2 linked regions of the Homo sapiens genome follow. The protein of the gene in region 1 purifies or fractionates together with the protein of each later gene. This does not show direct contact. Each region holds a gene or a part of one and is shown on either strand. Other genes may lie near its edges. The genes, in order: NYAP1 and ACOT9.

Region 1 (4,454 bases):
CCCCAGGCCCCTGGCCGGCCGCGGGCCCAGCCGAGCCAGCGGGGGCCACCTCCTTACTGGAGCTGGGGAGAGAAGGCCACGATGGAGTGGAGGAAGGGCCTCGGACCTGGGCATCCCCCTTCTCCACCCCAAGAGGTGTCAGCAACCCTGTGGCTTCCCAGGGAAGAGGACGGGAGCCTGGGTGGGGACAGGGTTGCCAGAAGGTCCAGGGCACCAATGAAGGGGCTTCAGGCAGAATCTTGGGCTTTAAAAACACAAGGCAGTTGGGGGCAGGGATGAGAAGAGGGGTGAGTATGCCTGCAGGGGAGCATCCCTGGGGCTGGCGGATCCCAGCCTGGGCACCTGTGTGGACAGCCTTGTGCAGAGGTAGAGATACAAACCCAGGTAACACAGATGGACACGCCTGCCCCCCACAGCTCCTTGGCCCCTCTCACTCTCACAGTGGCCCACACCTGGCCTCTGGTTACCCCTCCTGCCCAGCCACTGTGACCTCTGCCCCCACGGCACACCTCCTCTCCCAGATGCAGGATGTGCCCCTCCAGGACCAGAGCAGCCTCCCTCCCTGGCCCATCCTTCTTCCTCCCTCTCCCCTGGTGCTGTTCTCTCTCTGTCAGCCTCCCCGGCTCACCCCCATTCCATTCCACTGTCCCTGAGCTTCTGTCTGAGTGGAGGGTGGCAGAGGGTTGGGGGGGCGGCTGGCAGGGAAGAGAGGAGAGCTGTGTGGGGTGGGCACTCATTAAGGCCCTGTCTACTAGCCCTTCATTAGGGAGAGATCGCTGCAGCGATCACTCTGATTAATCTAATTAACAACAAGAATTAAACTCCACAGTTGCGAGGAAGGAAAAGGGAGGTGGCTGTGAGTCAGGCTCCAAGTGGCTGTGAAGTCAATGGGAGAGAAGAGGAGAAGGAGAGAAGGATGGGAGAGGCCAGGCCCCAGGTCCCTGGAAGGGCAAGCGGGGAGGCAGACAGGGATTGCAGGGGTCTGGAGGTCGTCCCCTGCCCTGGCTCTTTGGCAAGGCCCAGCCTGCATGTCTGCCCACCACACACACAACCCCATCACTTGACCACTCACCTCCCCCAGCAGGGAAAACTGGGAGGAGGCCAAGTGGATGTTCTCTGATGCCCCTGAAATGACCCCTTCCCTAGACCCTGGGAGAGAGGCGGGGCCTGCCCCTTCCAAGGTCAGGTGACAGGAGAGCCCGCAGCCAGCCCCAAATTTGCAGAAAGGAGAAGGGCTACAGGCCAGAGGTGAGTCAGGAAGGAGTGACTCGGGCCTCTGGGGATGGGGAACAACCAAAGGGGTGCTCCTAGGCTGTAAACCCCCCCACAGGAGAGCAGGAGTTGGGCCAGGACAGTGTGTGCAATCCTGGCCATTCCGTACTGACTCTGAGATCAGAGAGCTCACTCATGACAAGGCTGCCGGCCCCCGAGAAGGGCTGTGGCCCAGTGAGGGGGCAGGCAGAGGTGCGGAAGGGAAGGGAGCAGTCTGGGGTGCAGCCTTACCTCCTCTTGGCCTCCTCTTCCTTGTGCTGCCTCCACTCCAGCTTGGTTTTTCGGTAGAGGAGGTTCATCTCGTGGGGCAGGAGGTGGGGGCTGGGGGGCCCTGCTCAGTGCCACCAGGCCCGGGGGGCGGCCCTCCCTGGGTCCCGGATCCACTGGCGGGCGGGGTGGGTGAGAACGGAAAAAAAAGAAAGGTGGGATGGGTGGGGGCCAGGGATGAATGAAAGAGAGAAAACGGAGAAGAGACATGACTCGGGTCCTCAGAGAGGAAAACACAGACAGAAAACCCAACACAGCTTCGAGGACCCACAGACAGACAGACACAGACCCCGACAAAGGTGTTCAGAGCCCCAAATACACACTCTGGAGAGACCAGGTCAACACAGATTCCCTTCTTGTGTAAAGACATCCCGATCCACCACCCATACAGGCCCCACAAACGGACTGCAACCCCTCAGCTACACAAGTACACATTCAGACACACAAACCACGGAGCCACCGACCCACATCTACAGACAGAGGACCAGACGCAGAGATTGGCATAGGTAAACAGAAACCTAGGGATAGACAGGCACACAGACATAAACACCCACAGACACACCCACAGACCTCCAGACACACACAAATCTGCTACACAGAACTGGACACACCTACAGGCAGAGTTATGCCCAGGGCCTACTTGCGTACATTGCACCCCACTGGGAAAAGGGGAGATGGTCAGACTCTCCCCCCTATCTTGGGCTGTAGGGGGATCTCATGAGGGCAGGGTGGGGACGCTGAAGGAAGGATGGGAGACACCCTGAGTTGGGTATCTAAAATACCACCCATCCATCTATCTCCACTGCCTGCCTTCCCCCACTTCCAGTCCTTCCCCGGGCCTGGGCCTTGGTCCACCCCGATTCTGGCTCCCTGGCCCTTTAGCAATGGTTTAGTCTCTGCCTCCCTCCCTCGCTGATGGCCCCAATCACCTTCTTCTTCCTCCAGGATTTGGGAGGCCCCCTGGTTTTCCTCTTCCAGTCCCCGCCCCTCAATCCCACCCGGGGGGCTCCAGTCTGGCCCCACTGCTACCTTCTGGGCTGCGGCCTCCATACCTGCTCCGGTTTTCCTTCCCCCAAACCCACACTCTTCTTTTCGCCTTCAGCCTCACTTCTCCTCCCAGGCGCCCCTCCTTACAGCCGTCCTCCCCCTTCCCCTGTTCCAAACCTGGCCTGCTTCATCCCCCTTCTCCATCCAAGGGCCCCAGGTTCCTGGCACCCCTCCCCTTCCCCTTGTCCTGCTACCCTGGGCTTCTCCGCCTTTCGCTCCGCCAATCCTCCCTGTCCCTTGTCCCCCCACCCCAACCTTCCTGCACCAAGCCTCCCCAGGTTCTCCATCACCGTACCTGGCCTGCCGGGCGCCGGCCCCCCCATGCCGGGCTCCGCCCGGAGCAGGAGGAGGGAGGAGGAGAGACAGAGACAGACCGGGGGGAGCGAAGCTGGGCCCTGCCGCAGAGACAGCCCCGCCTCCGGGTCCGCCCCCAGACCCGCCCCCGGCCCCAAACCCACCCTTCCACACCCTCCAAGGACGGAACGGGAGCGGCCGTGCGGCGCGGGGCCGTGGGGCTGGGGCGCGGGGCGGGGGAGCCGCGGAGCCTGCGGGGGCAGATTCGGAGGAAGGTCGTGGGGCGCTGGGGGCCCGGCGCCAGCCCGTCGCGGTCTTTGGGCGTCCGCTCCTCGCCGCCCCTCGCCCCCTGCCCGGCCGGTCGGTGCTGAGTTCGGTCTCCCCGGCCCCGGCGGAGCGGCGTGCGGCGGCGCCCCCCAGCGGCAGCCTGGGGCCCACGCCCCCGCACCGTGTACCCCGTGCACCCCGTGCAACCCGTACGCCCGGCGCGCCCCGGGTCCGCACCCAGCGTCGGTCCGGGGCCGAGGCTGCGGCTGCGGGGCCCGGGGTGCAGTGAGGCGCTGGGGCCGCCAGGGGGTGCCGCTTTCCGGGCCGAGGGGCTCCGAGGGTGGGGAACGGGACGGGCGGCGGCTCAGCCCAGCAGGGGGCGTGCTCCGGCGGCCGCGCCCCCTTTCCCCACCGCCCCCAGGTGCCAGGAGAGCACCTGAGTTGGCTCGCGGGGGAATCGGCTGCCTCCCCCTGCAGCCTCCCGGGGGTGCCCGGATCTCGTTCCACCGTCTGGGCTCAAAGCTATCCGCCCCCGTGGCCCGAGTCCTCCTCTCGTGACCTTTGACTCCCCCGGCGCCGCTCGCAACGACCAGGGTCGACCTGAGTGTGGCCACCGCGGCTACCACCCTGGCACTGTCGGGGGGCCGCTACGGGACGTGACCTCGACCTCCCCTTTTCTCATTTATCTTTTCTTTTCTCATTATCTCCCCTAGAAATAACTCCCTCTGAAATCCCTTGGGCTCACAGCTCTGCAGCGGGGGTAAATCAGCTCGAGAAGACCTCGGTTGTACCTTCCACGGGCTGGAAAATGGGCACGGCAAAGATAGGCACGGCCTGATCCCTGGAGCCTGCGAATGCTACTTTCCATGGCAGCGTCTTTGCAGTCTTGCTGTGTGGCTTTAGGCAGATCGTGCAACCTCTCTGAGAGACGCTTTAGTCCGGGGATGTCCACTCTTTTAACTTCCCTGGGCCACATTGGAAGAAGAATTTGTCTTGGGCCACACATAAAATACTCTTAACACTGGCGGGGCGCGGTGGCTCACGCCTGTAAATCCCAGCACTTTGTGAGGCCGAGGCTGGTGGATCACCTGACATCAGAAGTTTGAGACCAGCCTGGCCAACGTGGCAAAACCCCGTGTCTACTAAAGATAGAAAAAATAAGCTGGGCATGGTGGCCTGCGCCTGTAATCCCAGCTACTCGGGAGGCCAAGGCAGGAGAATCGCTTGACCTGGAAGGCAGAGGTTGACGTGAGCCCAGATCGGGCCACTGCACTCCAGCCTGGGTGAGAGAGAGAGACTTTGTCTCA
Region 2 (3,803 bases), on another chromosome or scaffold:
CAATGCCTTTATTATATCTGAGAAATTCAACAGTGATACAGTTATTTAATATGTGATCCGTATTCAGATTTCACCAGTTGTCCCTAAAATGTCCTTTATAGCTATCTTCCTGATTCAGGACCCAATCCATCAAGGATTGTATATTGCATTTGGTTATCCTGTTTCTTTAGAATAGTCTCTCTGCCATTTGCTGTCTTTCAAAAATTGATATTTTTAAAGAGTTCAAGCCAGTTTTCTTTTTCTTTTTTTTTTTTTTTTCTTTTTTTGAGACAGAGTTTCGCTCTTGTTGCCCAGGCTGGAGTGCACTGGCACGATCTCGGCTCACCGCAACCTCCACCTCCTGGGTTCAAGCAATTCTCCTGCCTCAGCCTCCCGAGTAGCTGGGATTACAGGCATGTGCCACCACGCCCGGCTAATTTTGTATTTTTAGTAGAAACGAGGTTTCTCCTTGTTGGTCAGGCTGGTCTCAAACTCCCAACTTCAGGTGATCCCCACCCGGCTTGGCCTCTCAAAGTGCTGGGATTACAGGCGTGAGCCACCACGCCCGGCCTAAAGCCAGTTTTCTTGTAGAGTGTTCTACAACCTATATTTGACTGTTTCCTCATGATTAGAATCAGGTTAAACATTTAGCAGATGCCAGTATCCTTTTTATAATGTTAAGTTTCTAGTGTGCAATTAAGGCTGTAACTGTAAGGCTTCCCTAATTGTTCCAGCGTTCACATGTAAGGCAAGCAGTAAGCACTACCCAAAATGAAAAGCAGATTCTTTAAAAGTAGTAGGTGATTGTTCATCTTCAAGTTTTATTAGATAATGGCATATCTTAAATTATATTCTTTTTTTTCTTCTTTTTAGGCCGGCATTTGTAAATCCACTCATCCCTGAAAGCCCAGAGGAAGAGGAGCTCTTTAGACAAGGGGAATGTACATTAATTTGTTTATAATAAAATAAATTTGAAAAGCACATTAATTACGCTGCAGAAGAGATTATTTAAGATTTTATATGGGCTCTTCATACCAGTCAAATGTCTTTTTTTTGTTTGTTTTTTTGTTTGTTTTTTTTGAAATGGAGTCTCTCTGTCTCTTGCCAGGCTGGAGTGCAGTGGTGCCATCTCGGCTCACTGCAACCTCTGCCTCCTGGGTTCAAGTGATTCTTCTGCCCCAGCCTCCTGAGTAGCTGGGACTACAGGTGCGCGCCACCACACCCAGCTAATTTTTGTACTTTTAGTAGAGATGGGGTTTCACCATTTTGGCCAGGATGGTCTCGATCTCCTGAACTCGTGATCCGCCTGCCTTGGCCTCCCAAAGTGCTGGGATTACAGGCGTGAGCCATTGTGCCTGGCCCAAATGTCTTATTCATACCAATAATTTATTGAAATTAAAAATATGCTATTCTTTTTTCTTTGGAGTCCATACTTTGAATGATTTTATTGATCAGACAATATTTATTAAGTGAAGTAATTTGTTATCTCCGTTTTTTTTTTTTAGACAGTTCTTGCTCTGTTGCCCAGGCTGGAGTTGGGCTTGGGTCCAGGAGTTTGAGGCTACAATGAACAATATTGTAGTCTCGATCTCCTGGGCCCAAGCTATCCACCCACCTCAGCCTCCTGAGTAGCTAGGACTATAGGCACGTGCCACCATGCCTGGCTAATTAAAATTTTTCTTTGTAGAGACAGGGGTCTCACTATGTTGCCCAGGCTGGTCTTGAACTCCTGGACTCAAGCAATCCTCCTGCCTCCGCCTCCCAAAGTGTTGGGATTACAGGCATGAGCCACTGCACCTGGCCTGTTTTCTCCGTTTTAATGAAGTGAGAAATGCATCTCAATGGGATAACTGCAGGTCAGGGCTCTGGATCAGGATGATATCAAGTGATCTCACACTGAACCAATATAATTTCCATGTGGAACCAAAGACTCACTGGGAGTTTTATGTGGCCTCTGCAGTTTTCTCTTGGATACGTGTATAATTTTCAGTGAGATTTTGAAAGGCATCCCAGGTCAGAATACCGTGTGCTGTAGTGCGACCGTCCTGATCATTGCTCCTTATTCTCCCTTGTTCCAGTGAACAAGGGGAGAAGAATTGCCTTCAGCTCCACGTCGTTACTGAAAATGGCCCCCAGCGCTGAGGAGAGGACCACCATACATGAGATGTTTCTCAGCACACTGGATCCAAAGTAAGGATGGTGAGATTCCACGTTGGGAAAACATTTAAACCTTGGCCTTTTTTTTTTTTTTTTTTTTTTGAGACGGAGTTTCGCTCTTGTTACCCAGGCTGGAGTGCAATGGCACGATCTTGGCTCACTGCAACCTCTGCCTCCCGGGTTCAAGTGATTCTCCTGCCTCAGCCTCCGAGTAGCTGGGATTATAGGCATGCACCTCCACGCCTGGTTAATTTTGTATTTTTAGTAGAGACGGGGTTTCTCCATGTTGGTCAGGCTTGTCTTGAACTCCTGACCTCAGGTGATCTGCCTGTCTCCACCTCCCAAAGTGCTGGGATTACAGGCGTGAGCCACCACACCCGACCTTTTTTGTTTTTGAGATGGAGTCTTACCCTGTTGCCCAGGCTGGAATGCAGTGGCGTGATCTTGGCTCACTACAACCTCTGCCTCCCGGGTTCAAGCAATTCTCCTGTCTCAGCCTCCCAAGTAGCTGGGATTACAGGCGCCCGCCACCACGCCTGCTAATTATTTTGTATTTTTAGTAGAGACGGGGTTTCACCACGTTGGCCAGGCTGGTCTCAAGCTCCTGACCTCATGTGATCTGCCTGCCTCGGCCTCCCAAAGTGTTGGGATTACAGGCGTGAGCCACCGCGCCTGGCCTAAACCTTGGCCTTCTCCAGAGCCACAGTTGTCTGAGTGTATTGGGAGTGACTTGCAAATGTTTTTACTTTTCAACAAGAGAACCATGGCATTAACAGGGTTTAATAAATATTCATTTGTACAGGACTATAAGTTTTCGGAGTCGAGTTTTACCCTCTAATGCAGTGTGGATGGAGAATTCAAAACTGAAGAGTTTGGAAATTTGCCACCCTCAGGTATTATAATTTAGTGAGAAATCCGAATAGGATAGCTTCCGTTCATGATATTTGTCCAAGATTTGACACACCTTTAAACTGGCCTTTGTCCTGTGGCATTGTTAATTCCTCTGTTCTGTATACAAAGGTGGCCATAAGTTTTGTATTTATTGATATTTATTTATGTCCTGTAGGAGCGGAACATTTTCAATCGGATCTTTGGTGGTTTCCTTATGAGGAAGGCATATGAACTTGCGTGGGCTACTGCTTGTAGCTTTGGGTGAGTTACATGTAAGGCAGCCTTAACTTCTGAGAAGCAATTTATATCACCCCACTGAAATGAAACATTTCGGACCAGTCTGGGTGTGTGTGGGAATATGTTATGTTTTTGAATGAATACCACACTGATACCAGCTGAATTTGATCTTCATTTTAGAAGGTTGTTTCTCTGACTTTGTAAGTTCATACATTAAAAAAACTACTGAGAAAATACAGTGATGATATGTAGAAAGGAAAAGATATAGTTATTTTGGCCCTAATCTGCTCACGATGGCGTCTCTTACCATTTCTCACTGGTAGGATCTTTTCCCCCTTCTCTAACTTTATTCTTCGTTCATTTTTATTTTGCTTCAGCTAGTTGTTAGAGGAAACAATTGAGATCATCTGAATTTTGCAATATACCCCAAATTCTGTCCTTTCCCCCAACAGTGGTTCTCGACCGTTTGTGGTAGCAGTAGATGACATCATGTTTCAGAAACCTGTTGAGGTTGGCTCATTGCTCTTTCTTTCTTCACA

What was found.
Region 2: the proteins of NYAP1 (region 1) and ACOT9 purify together in Homo sapiens (affinity purification with western blotting, with the first as the bait; one study listed by BioGRID). This does not show direct contact.

Annotation. Positions count from the first base shown.
Region 1 is NC_000007.14:100,482,429-100,486,882, reverse strand, and holds the start of NYAP1 (neuronal tyrosine-phosphorylated phosphoinositide-3-kinase adapter 1), read right to left. Parts: upstream 2,957-4,454; 5' UTR 2,882-2,956; intron 1,656-2,881; 5' UTR 1,572-1,655; coding exon 1,504-1,571; intron 63-1,503; coding exon 1-62. UniProt on the Homo sapiens protein: Activates PI3K and concomitantly recruits the WAVE1 complex to the close vicinity of PI3K and regulates neuronal morphogenesis.
Region 2 is NC_000023.11:23,704,994-23,708,796, reverse strand, and holds part of ACOT9 (acyl-coenzyme A thioesterase 9, mitochondrial isoform a precursor), read left to right. Parts: intron 1-852; coding exon 853-920; intron 921-2,057; coding exon 2,058-2,169; intron 2,170-2,938; coding exon 2,939-3,029; intron 3,030-3,202; coding exon 3,203-3,288; intron 3,289-3,716; coding exon 3,717-3,803. UniProt on the Homo sapiens protein: Mitochondrial acyl-CoA thioesterase. Catalyzes the hydrolysis of acyl-CoAs into free fatty acids and coenzyme A (CoA), regulating their respective intracellular levels. Regulates both mitochondrial lipid and amino acid metabolism.